Linked DNA regions of Homo sapiens. The protein of the gene in region 2 purifies or fractionates together with the protein of the main gene of each other region. This does not show direct contact. Each region holds a gene or a part of one and is shown on either strand. Other genes may lie near its edges.

The links. The genes of interacting proteins can lie anywhere in the genome.
Region 1: the proteins of SCGB1D1 (region 2) and PLXNA1 purify together in Homo sapiens (co-immunoprecipitation; 3 studies listed by BioGRID and IntAct, with this or other methods). This does not show direct contact.

Annotation. Positions count from the first base shown.
Region 1 is NC_000003.12:126,978,566-126,986,177, reverse strand, and holds the start of PLXNA1 (plexin-A1 precursor), read right to left. Parts: upstream 3,064-7,612; 5' UTR 2,891-3,063; intron 1-2,890. UniProt on the Homo sapiens protein: Coreceptor for SEMA3A, SEMA3C, SEMA3F and SEMA6D. Necessary for signaling by class 3 semaphorins and subsequent remodeling of the cytoskeleton. Plays a role in axon guidance, invasive growth and cell migration.
Region 2 is NC_000011.10:62,185,803-62,193,289, reverse strand, and holds the start of SCGB1D1 (secretoglobin family 1D member 1 precursor), read right to left. Parts: upstream 3,075-7,487; 5' UTR 3,006-3,074; coding exon 2,951-3,005; intron 1,235-2,950; coding exon 1,047-1,234; intron 1-1,046. UniProt on the Homo sapiens protein: May bind androgens and other steroids, may also bind estramustine, a chemotherapeutic agent used for prostate cancer. May be under transcriptional regulation of steroid hormones.

The sequences.
Region 1 (7,612 bases), on a different chromosome or scaffold from region 2:
GTTTATCAGTTCAAAGCAGGCCTGCAATTACCAGGGGCTGGGCTCTCCCCTCCTCTGGGATAATTATACACGTCTTAATGCAATTATGGGCCCTACTTTTTGTATTCAACAGGAGGGACCAGGCTAAGAAGCCACCATCCAAACTCCAGCCTGGTCTTGGGCCCACCGCCCCAAACTCCACCCTCACCCCACTGCCCCAACAAAGTCTGCTGGGAAGGGACTTGCCTGGGGTCACAGGGTTGCCGGCCAAGAAAGGGGGAGCCCCGAGCCTAGGGCTGGGTCCCTCATGCCCAGCATCTAATAAAGGCCAGTGACAATGCTTGGGCCACTTCTTCCACCTTAGGGGTATAAGACTTGGGGCTCAGACTCAAGGTCACCCAACTAGTCCCAGCAGGGCAGGGCCCAAATTTCGAGCTTCCAGAGACTGGACCAGCCAGCCAGCCTGCAGGGCTCAACTCTCATAGGCTTGGGTCTGCCTAGGAAAAAATGCATTCATTCCAAAGCTGGGCCCAGGTGCCAGGGTGCCAGGGGCCCATGCCGGGGCTAGGAGGGGAGCATGGGCAGATGCTGCACTCTACCGAGGAGCAGAGCTGGCCACTGTGGCCGGGGAAAGGCCTCAAGAGAGGACCAGGTAGCCTGGGAGCTGGTGCAGGAGGGTGGGCATTCGTGGTGGGGGTGGGGGGCAGAACAGGAGGAGCAAAGGCCTGGGGTGGGAAACACTGGCTGTGCAGAGGGCAGTAGGAACGGCTGTGGCTCTCCGGCATGGCCAGAGCTGTTCTAGGCTGAGGCAGAGCCAGAGCCAGGGCAGGGGAGGCTAGACTGGCCTTGGGATGCCGATGGGGCTAGCCAGGGAGAGAGAGGCGGAGAGAGACCCCGCGGTCTGCGTGCAGGAGCCCCAGCCCAGGGGCTCCTCTCCTGGACAGGAGGGGATCGCCGCCTGGTGGAACGCCAAGCCAACAGTGTCCCCTTCCCTTTCCTGGCCTGAGTGACACCAAAGCTCCTTCTCACCCTGAGAAACAAAGGCCCCCAAAGCCCTCCCCACAAGGAAGAGTCCAATCCCCCCAAGTCCTCCTGCGCCAGATCCTGCTATGGCTCAGGCAGGTTGGGGTGTGGGGCTGCCATCCTGCCCAGTGGCTCACAACAGCAGCCGGGGGGGAAGACAGCTGCTCCTGGCACTCCGCCTCCCCCACAACGGGGGTCATGGGAGGTGGTCCCAGTGGTTCTGCTCCCGACCAGTCCTAGGGGATCCGGCTCTGAAGGCCTTGGAGTCCTGCTCCTGAGAAAAAGTGCCTACCTTTGCAGGCCTTCCCCTGGGGCACCCGCTCCTCCCGGCCAGCTGCTCTAAGCTGCTCTGTGCACGGGGGCTTTCCTGGGGGCTCAAAACAGGCAGGCAACGACCTTGGGGGGCCAGGAGTCCAGCAAAGGGCTGTCTGCTTTGTCCACAGGCACCTCATGTGTCCCCCACCCCCAGAGCACACACTGAGGCCACAAACCCAGGCCTCCGCCCATGCTGTCCTCTGCCCAAAACGCCCTTCCTGGGCCCCACTGGCACCCCCCAGGAATGGAAGCCTGGCCCTGCAGCGAATCACTGGTTCACATGCCTGCCTCTGGCAGGGGGCTGGGTGCTCCTCAAGGGCCGGGCAGCATCTTGGTGCCCCTGGTGCAGCACCTGGCCTCTGCCGCACACCCCAAGCCGCAGGAAATCGAGGGGACCTGAGGCAAGCTCCTCAAGGGCCCGGGGAGCAGAAACTGCGCCCCATCCCTGCACCGACCCCCAAACCGGCTACGTGTGAAAGGAGATGGGGCAGCACGGAGCAGCCTGAGCCACAGGAGCCGCGCTGAGGGGACAGAGGCTCGACCACGTCCCCTCCCCGGCACACACACCCCTTTCTTTCAAGGGGCGTGGCCCCAGAACCCCACACAGGAGCCTGGGGCAGATCGCCGCCCGGGGCCGCCCCTCGGAGCCCCTCCCCTCCTTTCCAGGGCTGCACCTGGGACCTCACGCCGACCGAGGGGCCTCCCTGGAGTCCCCACTCCCCCTTCCCCTGGCAGCCCGGGATCGGCCCGCTGCCTCCAGCTTCGCCGCACATCAGGCCCGGGACTATCCAGGAAGCAATCGGAAGCCTCCGGGAGAAGCGGCTGACCCTGGAGAGGCCCCGAGAGGGGGAGGCCAAGGAGGCCCGAGCGGGGCGGCCTCCTGGGCGGCACCCAGAGCCCACCTCCCCGCACTCCGGGCCAGTGGGAGCGGTGGCAGCTGTGGTCGGGAAGCCGCTCCAACTTCCACCCCGCGCCCCAGGGCCGGCCGGGGGCTTAGCCTGCACGACCTCCTCCGGCCCCCGCGGCCCTGCTGGGAGGCTCCGATCCCTATCCGGGCCTGGCCACCCCGTCCTCGCCCGCGGCCAGAGGTCTGAGCCGAGGTCCAGCGGCCGGGACGGGCCTGGACACCGCAGGGGCCTCCCCGCGGGGCCGCCGCAAACTTTCTCCCCAGCCTCCGTGGAGGGGCAGCGCCCGCCCCCCGCCACCCCGGAGCTGCCGCGGGGCTCGGCGGGCCCGGCCGGGGGGCGGGGGAGGCCGCGGCGCTGGATCCCGGGCCGCGGTCCCAGCCCCGCCGCACGGGGGTGCGGTCTCTCCGCGTCGGCGCCGCGACCGCGCCCGGACACACGCGGACGCCTGGGCCGGAGCCGCAGGGACACGCGGGCCGCGGACACGCGCGCCGCAGTCCCCACGCGCGCCGCAGTCCCCGCGCACACCCCCTGCCTGCCGCCTCACGAGAGGGCCGCCGCCGGAGGCCGCCCCGCGCCCACCCACGGGCCGCCCGGCCCCGGACCCCAGCCCGGCCCGGCCCCCGCCCACCGTCCCGCGCCGCGGGGAAAGTTGCGCCCCGACTCACCCGCCGCCCCGGGGCGCGCCCCGCCGCCGGCCATCGCCGCGCCCAGCCGCCCGCGCCGCCGCCGCCGTCCGCCCCGCCGCGGGGCCGCCGAAGCCGCGTAGGCCGCCCAGGCCGAGGCCGCCGCCGCGCCCGGGCTCCGCTGCGTGGCCGCGCAGCCGATGCCCAGCATGAATGGGGCGCCGAGCGCCGCGCGGCTGCGGACCGGCCTCGCTCTCGCCGCCCGCGGAGCCCCGCGCCGCGCGCATGCGCCGCCCAGAGCCCGGGGGCGGGGCGGGGGCGGGGCCGGCGGCGGCCTCCAGAGGGCGCTCTGCCCCGCGCCGCGCGCCTGCAGGGGCCCACCGCGCGTCTTCAAAGGGCGATACGGCTGCCCGCCTCAACTCTCTGGGCGCCGGGGCCGCGCGGGCAGTTCCGGGAGCCCCCCGCTCTCGAGCGGGCTAGCCCGCGACCCCAGGAACAGGGCCTGGCTCAGTGTGCCCAGGCTAGGAGCATGGCCTCCTTTCACGGGGGGGGAAACTGAGGCTGAAGGAGGCAATCGCAGTTCCCAGACCTTGCGGGGCCGGGTGTTCCCAGCTCTCGGCCTCGCGCGTTCCGCTCTGTCAGATGGGCGGGCACCTGCGCGGGGAGCCCGGGCGCCCCCTGCAGGCCCCAGGCTGGTGGCGCATTCCCGGCTGGGGACGCAGCCCAGGGAGGAAAGTCCCGCGGCAGAGGCGTGGCGAGACGCGAACTCCGGCTGTAGCGTGGGGCAGCGGATCTACACGGTGTGAGGTGTGGGGCTGCAGAATCCAGGGTGACGGGCCAGAGCTGTCCAGGCAATACCCCCAGCCTGCATGGCAAGGCTGAGGGGCAGACACCCAGCACTCAGTTACTGTACTCACAACCGCCACTCCCAGGCAGGAGGCATCCGGGAGGGCCTCCCGGTGGACGCAACCAGGCCAAGGAAGGGGAAGCCGGCAACAGGAGCATCGATAACAGAGCAGATGGGCCAGGAAAACCCCGTCGTGGGAGGGCTGAGTCCCGGCTGGGGACTTGGCCCCCATCTGTAGCCTGAGGGGTGCGGTTTTTGCTGTGTGAATCACGTCACCCCTACAGAAGAGGAACTCTCTACAGTTCACATGGTTAACAGGGAAAGGGAATGGACTCATACCGGGCCCAGGTGTCCCTCCGCGTCTCACCCCGCTCCTCCCTCCCCAGGAGCAGCCACAACCCTCATTTTTGTGTTCATCTTTAAGTGCTTTTCTTTGGGTGTGACCTCTTATATTTGCACCCCAGAATGGGACGCTGTTTTGGGTGGCTTGTTCTGGGCATTACAGAAACGGGGTCACTCAGCCTGTGCTGTTTGCTCTGTCTGCTCTGTGTGGTGAGGGCACAGGGCAGCTGCTCGCAGGCATCGTCTTCGCAGCCTGTTTTGTTGGGCTCCTGCTCGCCCATTCTCCTGCCGATGGACATGGGATTGTCGCCTATCTGGAGCCATGATGAGCAAAGCTGTGATGAGCATCCTGTGTGTGCCTCTCGGTGGGCACCTTTAGATCCAGGGACGGTCTGCAGGGTCACGGGGTAGGATTTGTCTAGCTTCAGGAGATACAGCAAAACCGTCTTCCCAAGTGACAGCCCCAGTTTACACTCCCAGCAGCTTAGCAGGAGTGTGGAAGGGTCTGGCTGTCCCACATCCTCACCAATATTTGGCACTCTTTAGTTTTGCAAATCTAGTGGCATGAACTGGTTTTTCAACTAGGTGGTTTTGCTTGTCTGCTTTTTTTTTTTAGAGACAGACAGGGTCTCGCTCTGTCACCCAAGCTGGGATGTTGTGGTGCAATCAGAGCTCACTGTAACCTCAAGCTCCTAGGCTCAAACCATCCTCCTGCCTCAGCCTCCTGAGTAGCTGGGACTACAGATGGGCACCACCATGCCTGGCTAATTTTTTTTTTTCAAGAGATGAGGTCTCTATGTTACCCAAGCTGGTCTCAAACTCCTGGGTTCAAGTGATGCTCCCACCACAGCCTCTCAAAGTGTTGTGATTAAAGGCATGAGACACGGCACCCAGCCTCATTGAGTCTTACTGTGTCGCCCAGGCTGGAGTGCAGTGGCTCGATCTCAGCTCACTGCAACCTCCACCTCCTGGGTTCCAGTGATCCTCCCACCTCAGCTTCCCGAGTAGCTGGCATTACAGGCGTGTGCCACCATGCCCAGCTAATTTTTGTTTTGCCATGTTGGCAAGGCCGGTCTCAAACTCCTGACCTCAAGTGATCTGCCCGCCTCGGCCTCCCAAAGTGCTGGGATTACAGGTGTGAGCCACCATGCCCAGCCTCATTGTGGTTTTAACTTACATGTCCCTGAATGAGGCAGAACATCTTCCTCAAAAGTTATATTTATTATTTTATTTCCCAAGCACTAATACAGTGCTGGCTCTGCTACCTTCTACAGATGGGTGGGCTGAGGCTGGAGACGTGCTCAAGTTCCCCAGTGGATAGGAGGCCGGGCTGGGAGGCTAATCCCAGGAGTCTGGCTTCTCCAGTCTGTGGTCTTGACCCAGCCACTGGGCTGTACTTCCCCTCCCTTCCCTGGCAAACAAGACTGGAGCGCTTTCTTTCCTCACGGACTACCGAGGCACACGTGTGGGCGCAAATCCATCCTCATGGCTGGTGAAGGCAGAGCAAGTCCTGACTGCTCTCCGAGCCTCGATTTCCTCATCTGTGAAATGGACGTGAGAGCTTGCAGAGCTGTGGTGAGGGACACAGTGAGTGTGGACACCATGGCTGACCTCGGGGAATGTTCACCAGCTCTTGTCTGCGCCACCTGTCACCAGCACCAGGGGCTGTCCCTGCTGTCTGCCTGTTCCCGCCCTTTTGCCCCAAGGCAGACACTCCTCAAGGAGCTTCCTGCTCTGTACTCACGGTGCCCAGGAGAGCCTAGGCCTCTCCTCTGTGGTAGAGCCCCCTGTCTCCAGCTGCGTCTTGGGAAGGTCCAGGGCCGCTGGAGTCTACGTGTCCAGGACCAAGCTCCTGGTTAACCAGGTGCCTCCCTCATTTTCCCCATCTCTGCGAAACATGCCACATCCCCCAGGTTGCCCTACTGGGAACCTCCATGCTCCCCATGTCCCCTGCATCCCTCAGCCTGGTGGATTCTTCCCAAAAATATATTCCAGAACTTTCCACTTCCCTCCATCCCCACTCTGGGCTCCTCAGGAAGGAGCACCTCCTCTCTGCTCTGCCTGCTGTACTTGGTAACACCTTTCTGTCCAGTCCCCAGACAGCAGCAGCAAAAGCCATCACAGTGAGAATCTGCTCATGTGACCCTCTCATTATGCCCTGGAATTCCTTCTCCCATCATGAGCAACTGTGGATTCCAGGTGGCCTAGGTCTCAGCGCCACACAGAAAATTCTAAGGTTTTTAGGAGACCAGAGAGCAGATTCGCTTCCTGTCCCTGGGCTAGGGGAGGATTTCATAAACAAGATACTAAAAAAATAAAGAAAGGAAAATATGAGTCAATTTGACTACATTAAAATTAGTTACTTTTGCTCATTAAAAGTTATAAATAATGAAATAATGAGACAAGTCAGGATCTAGAAAGAGATGGCTTATAACACATCTAATTGTCAAAGGATGTGTATCCTGAATATATAAAGAACTCCCAAGAGTCAATAAGGAAAAGGCTGTGCCGCCACAGGAAGGTGGGGAGAAGACTGCACAGGCAGTTTGTGGGGACAGAGGCAAGTGCCTCTTGCTATGGATGGGCTGTGTGAGGCAGGCTCTAGAGCCCCTGCGGCTCTTGTCTGGCCCCGGCAGCAGCTGCCCTCTGTTTAGCTCTGAGCTCCTGGTGTGACCACACTGGGTCCTGACACTGCCCTCTGAGGAGGGACTGCAGCACCCCAAATGCAGACAGAGAAGTTGGAGGTGAGCAACCTTGGAGGAGCTGGGGTTGGAGCCGGGGTCTGTGACTTTGGGGCTCCTGACCCCACATCAAATAGAGGGGAAGTGACTCAGCAGGCTGCTGGGCTCTTCCCTCTGGGTTTCCCATGTTGGTTTAGCTTCTGTTTGCCTTCGGCAGCTCAGAGGGCTGGGGAGTTTGTAGAGTAGTGCAGGAGATTCCTAGGAACATGGTTCCATTTCAGGGGGGTCTGGAGAGGAGCTTCTTTTGGTGCTTTCCCATGCTCCTGCCCCTGGGGCAGCTCTGGGGACTGTTCTGCATTTGTACGAGTCAGAGCTTTCTGCAAAAGTATACTTGGGATCTCCTTCCCCTTGAGGCAGCCCCACTGCTACTGGGTGAGGAAGGAGATGGGGAGGATCCAGGCACCCCCAGCTCTGGGGAATGGCCCTCAGATCCCTGGTCACTGGGTTCAAAGCTGGTTGGGGGGGCATCTGGATTCCTGCCTGAGCCCACTTTGGAACTGGCACCACCACTGCCAAATATTCCTAACCCATCCTTGTCTCACTTCCCCTGCTTCTGTCACCTCCTGCCTGGAGGACATGGGGACCCTTAGTTGCCAGCGCAGTCCTCCCAACTCTGCTCTCCACACTGTGGTCCACAGGGATCTAATAGACAGCTGGGGAGACCCCTCTGCTCAGACCCTCTAGTGGCATCTTTTAACACATGAAATGCCTCCACACATGTGCACACATACGCACACACACACTCAAACATACAAACACACACATACACTCATGCAAACACACACACAAGTGCAAACACGCATGCAAGCACACATGCACACACAGGCACACGCA
Region 2 (7,487 bases):
GGGTAGAGGCAGGAACCCAGTGTGTGTGGGAAACCAGGGCCTAGACCTAGACCAGCCTTTCCTTGCCAGGCCAATAGCCCTGGGGGGACACAAGCATAAGGCCCAGGGTCCTCATAGAGGGGGGACAGAGCAGAGCAGCAAGAGGTTATTGTCTGGGCTGTCCCAGGACTTGGAGTCTCCTGTTCCCCGCAATGAAAGACCCAGTGCTGAGAGGTTGGTCAGGGCTGGGAGGGCCTCTGGGAAGCTTGGCTTCCAGGAGACTCCAGCCTCCCCATGTGGGAATTCTGCCTCAGGGCCTGAGCACCTCAATCCTGAGCCTGCAGCTTCCATGAGCATTTGCAGCTAAACCTCAGGACAGCAACCCAGAGGCAGCCAGGCTGAGAGGCCCCTGGAAAACCTCTGATTTCTTGAGAAAGACAGAGTGAGAACATCCCGCTTCCATGGCACTGCAGGAGGTAGAGTAGCGAGGGTCTTGGCCCACTGGCCGTGGTCAGGAGAGCATCGTGGGTGAGGAGGGGAGCGTGGAGTCTGAGGAGCTGGGAGGGGCTCCTTCCTGGTTCTGCAGAAGCTGCAGAGAAGTCCAGCCCTCCAGCGCAGCATCTGCAGGAGCCCCTGCTCTAGGTCCCTCCCTGCCTTCTTCTCCCTGTTCAAGGCTCCCACACTCCCCAGTACATTCCACAGTGACTGTGTGAGGTCCACTTGGCCTCAGGAAAGTCCCCAGGTGGAGAGACAGTTGTGCTTGGCCCTTCACCACCCCTGCCTGGACCCAGGCTCACTCCCCATGTCCTCAGCACACTCTGGGGACACGGCATCCAGGTAGGTGACCTGAGAAGGAGGAACATGCAGGAGGCTGTGTGCAGCTGAGTTGAATTCTGCAGGTGAAATGGTAGCACCCACCCTGTGGTCCCAGGTGACCTTCTCAAGCGGTGACCAGTAAGGCAGGTGCCCCACCACCTGTGTCCCTCACAGAGCAGCAAGCAAGCTGACCTCACTTCACACTGTGCCGCTGACCAGAAGCCTGGACACATGAAAGAGACAGAAATTACCAATGTTTTTGTAATTAGCACTCTTTTCTCATAGGCCATCGTATCCACGCATTTCTTCACTTCCATCTTGGCTGCAACAGCTTCCAGAGGTGCCTTAAATTTGGCAAGTTGGAACTTGAACACAGGTTTTCCAGCTAATAAGAAGCCTGTGATTTCAGAACCAAGAGCTTGGCAGACCACTGCATTTGCTGGAGCAAAAGAATAAAAATATAATTTGTGTAAGGAAATCAGTGTTTCTCCCATGCCTCCCTGATGTCAGACCAGACAGGAACCCCAGGGTTTTAGGCTTCTATTCAATAACTATGCCAATGACAATGTCAGACCCAGGAGGTTGTGACTTCCTTGAGGTCACACAGCAAAGGGTAGAGCTAGAACTGGAGAACCAACTTCCTGATCACTCATTCAGTCTTTGTTTTTTTTTTAAAGCACACTCATTACTTTCCAAAGCTTCTCTGGATGGATGGCCAACGTTCTCTTTTCTAGATTTGAAAATAATCACTTTTCTATGCCAGTTAAGTGACACTTTATTAGTCTTGGACATTGGTGAAGAGGAGGCTTTGAGTAATCAAATTTTGAAGTGGAATGGTAGAGTCAGAATCCTATCAGAAATTAGAGAAATGAGTAAATCTGGAACAGAAGAAGTTAAAATTATTGAAATGTTGAAGGTGATGTTTTGAGAACAAGTTGTAGAATTTAGGCTTATGTGATTCAATACAGACAGAGCTAAAAGGTAAACAAATTAAAACAAAATAAAATAATGTGAATCAGTTTTAACACACATTAGAAGCTTATACAGGAAATTGTACTTGGCCCATATTCTGCAGCAGCATCTAGAATATTTGGAGAGGATGAGAGGAGGGAACTGAGGCTCATTCCTGCTCCCACTGGGAATTTTGGAAAGACCTGGAGTAATCATTTTGCTTGGTCTGGAATCTCCATTCACCTAAGTCTTTTGCAAACACCATGCATCCAGAAAGCGCCCCACCATGCTCAACATGACCCCTGACTACCCGACTTCAAACTGTGGGGAGAATTTGGAGAGGGTAGGATCGGGGTGTCACAGGGAAACAGGGAGAGGTTCAGAAAAGAAGAGGAAAGAGAAAAATCAGAGTCTGGATCGGTCCTGACAGGGGAAAGGAAAGTACCCAAATGAACTGGGGAAAAATCAGCCAGAATTAATTTTAGAAAAATAGAAGTTCTGAGGCTAACCATTGTAGTATTTCTACCACCATTACGGTAGGACCCCTAGAAGATATATTGAGTGCTGCTTATTCTAAGAATTCATTTGCAGGCTTCTTATTGAGAGAATCAGAAAGCACCATCTCTTCTTGGACTGAGAGTTCTCCAAGGATCCTTCGAGATGTAACATTTTATGAGTCTGAATTTACAATGTAAGAAGCTGTGAGCTCAATTGGCACCTAAAGGTCTGGGGACGAGAATGTCTGACAGTACAGTGATTGGCTTCACATCCACAGCTAGACCCTTGGCACAATAATCCCACTCCATTCCCATTGCCACTCCCGGAAGAAGCTCTAAGCACCAGAGATAGGAGGAGGCGCGGGGAGGGTGAGCATCTTGCCCACGGTGAAAGGGCTGAGAAGTGGCTGAGCCCAGAGTCACCCCAGACCTCACATTACATCATCTGACACAGATCCCATCCAAGAGTGAAGCTCAGGCAGAATTCCTAACGTTCGCCTGCATTGATTTTCTGCAAAACTTCCTAGGTACTGGGGATTTGATGAAATGAGGCCCGAGCTTTATGAGCAGTTCCTTCAACAAGCACAGGATAAGGTTTGGAATTTTGGTTTGTTCCAGACCCCAACCTTAACCTTAATAGGTGACCTCGTGCTCAGAGAAGGGTGTGTCCCAAGGGCTGGTGCTGGACTCATGACTGATGTACTCACCCCGGTAGCAGCAAAGGGCCAGCGTGAGCAGCAGGAGACACACCGACAGCCTCATGGTGGCTTATTCTGCTGTGAGCTCGGCTTTAACCAATGATGAGTGATTTAGACTCAGCCCCGGGAGCCTGTGGAGCCGTGGAGCCCAGGGCTATTTGTACCTAGGGAGCCTGGCTGGTCCTGCCCACATGGGCATCTGGCAGGTGATGAGGCCTGGCTTCCAGCCCTCCCTTCCTAGCCAGGGCTGCTGCCATCCATCAGTGTCACATCCCCACACCTCCCTGCATCCTGAGTGGGGCGGAGCACGGGAGGGCAGCCCTGCAGAAACTCTGCTCTGTGCTCCAGGTGAGTGTCCAGGTGCCTCTGGCAATGTTCCCTGGAACCTCAGTTTGCTTTTGGGCTTTTGAGGATTATCTCTCTGTTCTTTATGTCAGTGCAAGGGCAAATGTGAGTTCTCATTTCAGGAGGACAGAAACCGGGGGTGCAGGAAGCTAGGGGCTGTGGTTTGGTTATAGGAGAGCAGGCACAGAAGAGACCCCACTTTGACCTCCACTGCATGTCTGACAATCAGCCACACGTGTTTCAGCTGCACATAGATCAAGTCTGAACCAGACCTATCCTCCCACTCAGCCCCTTCCATCCCCACCATCTTCACCACATAGGTACCTAAAACATAGCTGCATACACCCCACCTTTGGAGGATTTCCTTGGGGAAAACAACCACTCCCCCTGTCCTCTACTCTGTCTCACTCCAAGATCTGTGTCTTTATTTATGGGTGGAGTTGTCAACATAGCACAGGTTCAAATTTTCTGTCTACTAAAAGCAAGCCTCCAGTGACCTCTAGCCACCCATATCTCCTCATAGGGCTGATGGGATGATTAAATTGCCCAACTTTTTTTACCCAAGGAGCTGCTGGGGTGTCTGGAGGCAAACAGGCATCAGAAATACTGGTCTTCGCTTCTAGGCAGGGACGATAATGGAAAGGAAGAGATGGATGAACAGGGTGGGTGGTCACTTCCCTCTAACCTCTGGGCTCAAGTTTTCCACTTCTAACCCAGCTCTGCTGCCTGGGTCATCTCATTGTTGATGGAAAGCGAAGGCCATCCCCAGCAAAAGCAATAGACACCCTTCTGCCCTTCCACTGCAGTGCCATCATTTGGTGAGTAGGAAATCACCAGAAATTTGGCTCTTAAGTGAACACACATTTGAGAACAGTCACAGCCCAGGCCAGAGCTTTCCATTCTCTGCTCTGCAATCAAATCACTTGGGGCTCTTAAACTATACTGACTCCCCGCAGGCTGCTTCCCTTTCTGGGGATTTTGATTCAGTAGTTCTAGGGCGAGGTCCTCTTCTGTTTAAACTGCTCTGGTGGGTCTGATGGGCAGCAGTACTGAGAACCACCCAGAAAGACCTTTATGAAGGAAGCGGACCTTATGGTCTGTGTCATCAGAGACACCTTGGCAGGTCTGGCTGAGTCCCAGCTGAGGGCGACAATGCCTCTCACTTCCATCACCCAAAATGGTGGGGAAGCCCCTGATGCCACCTCTGCCTCCAACCCTAAGGAGTGGAAGGTCCAGTGGCAAAGCCCATGGCTAGGAGGGTTCAGATCCATGTCTATGGGCTATTGAACCCTCTGAAAATTAGTTTATGTAAACACAGTTTTCTCGTTTGTAAAAGTAGGTTAAAAATGGTGCCTACATCATTGGGTTGATAGATGTTCAAATGAGTGTGTGTGTGTGTGTGTGTGTGTAAAATTTACCAGGTCTGGCCAGGCGCAGTGGCTCACACTTATAATCCCAGCACTTTGGGAGGCCGAGGCGGGTGGATCACCTGAGGTCAGGAGGTTGAGACCAGTCTGGCCAACATGGTGAAACCCCGTCTCTACTAAAAATACAAAAAATTAGCTGGGTGTGGTGGCATGTGCCTATAGTCCCAGCTACTCAGGAGACTGAGGCAGGAGAATCTCTTGAACAAGGGAGGCAGAGTTGTGGTGAGCTGAGATGGCACCACTGCACTCCAGCCTGGGCAACAAGAGCAAAACTCCATCTCAAAAAAGAAAAAAAAATTAACAAGGTCTGACATGTAGTAAACGCTCAATAAATGTTGACTACTATTACCTTGTCCCACCTGTCATACATTTCATGGATCATTACCAGTTCCTAGTTTAAAGCACAGCCAACCCCTCAAAAAAAAAAATCACTGATTTTCAGAACTACAATTCATGGGCCACATAAGGACATATTAGTTAATATCAGACCCCACATACAACAGGGGTCCCCTAAAATTATAATACTGTGTTTTTACTGCACCTTTTCTGTTTTGATATGTTTAGATACACAAATACTTGTCATTGTATTACAACTGCCTACAGTGTTCAGAACAGTAATATGCTGTACAGGTTTGTGGTCCAGGAGCAACAGGCTTACCTATTAATAGCTGAGGTGTGCAGTAGGCTATGCCATCTAGGTTTGTATAACTGCATTTTATGATGTTCACACAATGACAATTGCCTATGCATTTCTCAGAATGTGTCCCAGTCACTAAGTGACACACAACTGTCTAAGGAAACCTGGATACACCCCCACTATCTGAAATAAATGGAGGAAACCCAGCTCATGGTCTCTGAGACTGCAGACCCAGGGACACGAATTTAGGTTCTTACAGATGACAGATGGGTGAGGAATTTTCCATAGCTGTTGAACAGAGCTTTCCTGATGTGGGCTTGGCCTTCATCTGTATATTCCATTAGGAAGGATGTGTATATCTGAAAGAGGATTGCTTCCCACATATTTTTATCATTCCTGTAGCTCTTAACATCTGCTCGGGGCTTTTTCTAGTTTTCATAGGTGGTACTTTTGATGACTGCTCTACTCCTTCCCTGGTTGGCTTAAGATCTTCTCATTTTGGCCGGGCATGGTGGCTCACACCTGTAATCCCAGCGCTTTGGGAGGCCAAGGCAGGTGGATCATTTGAGGCCAGGAGTTCGAGACCAGCCTGGGCAACATACAAGACCTTGTCTCTATAAACAATTTTAAAAATTAGCCAGGCATGGTGGTGGGTGCCTGTATTCACAGCCACTAAAGAGGTTGAGGTGGGAGGATTGCATGAGCCCAGGAGTTTCAGGCTACAGTGAGCCCTGATTATGCCACTGCACTCCAGCCTGGGCAACAGAGCAAGAATTTGTCTCTAAAAACATGAAATAAAATAAAATAAACGTTTTTAATGCAAAAAAAAGTATGTGAAGTGATGGATTTGTTAATTAATTTGATTGTATTTGATGTGTGTATTGTAAACATACATCAAAACATTATATTGTATGCCATAAAAATATACAAGTTTAGGTCAGGCTCAGTGGCTCGTGCCTATAATCACAGCACTTTGGGAGACTGAGGTGGGCAGATTACCTGAGGTCAGGAGTTTGAGACCAGCCTGACCAACATAGCAAAACCTTGTCTCTACTAAAAATACAAAAATTAACTAGGTTTGGTGCTGGGTGTCTGTAATCCCAGCTGCTTGGGAGGCTGAGGCAAGAGAATGGCTTGAACCTGGGAGGCGGAGGTTGCAGTGAGCCAAGATCATACCACTGCACTCCAGCCTGGATGACAGAATGAGACTCTGTCTCAAAAAAAAAATTAAAGAAAAATATATATATACAATTATTATTTGTCTATTTAAATTAAAAAAATTGTATGGAGAGAAACATGATGTTAACAATATTCTCTTCAAACAAAGGGCAAAATTCATATAAAAGATAAATCCATGAACATAAATTGGTCATTATTTATAGATAGTTATTCAACTATCAGGGAAATTTAAGACAATCCACTAGAAAAACTGTCAATATTGATTTGCCACCACAGCTGCCAGCATGCATTCACATGAGCACAGATCCTGCTGCCACTGCTCTGATGAAGTGCTTTGGCAGGGTGTTGTTGCCAGCAGACTGGGAACACCTCCACCTCACCAGCACAGCGGGTGCTTAACCTCAAGGGGCCGGAGAACAAAGCAATGGGCCTGGTACCAGGCCTCCAGGGTTAGAGCAAGCAGCCCAGGAGTGCTGAACTGAACTGAACCTTGGCCTTCTGAAATCTTCCAGAAACAAAGCCCAGTCAACTGAACCCAACTGATACCACAGTCAAACCCTCAAGGGCATCAAAGAATGCAAAAGAAAAAAACCGGGCCGGGTGCAGTGGCTCACACCTGTAATCCCAGCATTTTCGGAGGCCGAGGCAGGCGGATCATGAGGTCAAGAGATCAAGACCATCCTGGCTAACATGGTGAAACTTCGTCTCTAATAAAAATACAAAAATTAGCTGGGCGCGGTGGTGCATGCCTGTAGTCCCAGTTACTTTGGAGGCTGAGGCCCATCCAAGGGACAGCAACTTCAAAGATTAAAAGAACATCAGTCCACTCAGATGAGAAAGAATCAGCACAAAAACTCTGGCAACTCAAAAAGCCAGAGTGTCGTCTTACCTCCAAATGACCACACTAGTTCCCCAGCAATGGTTCTTAATCAGCTCTGTGGGAAAGAGAGTTTCTGGG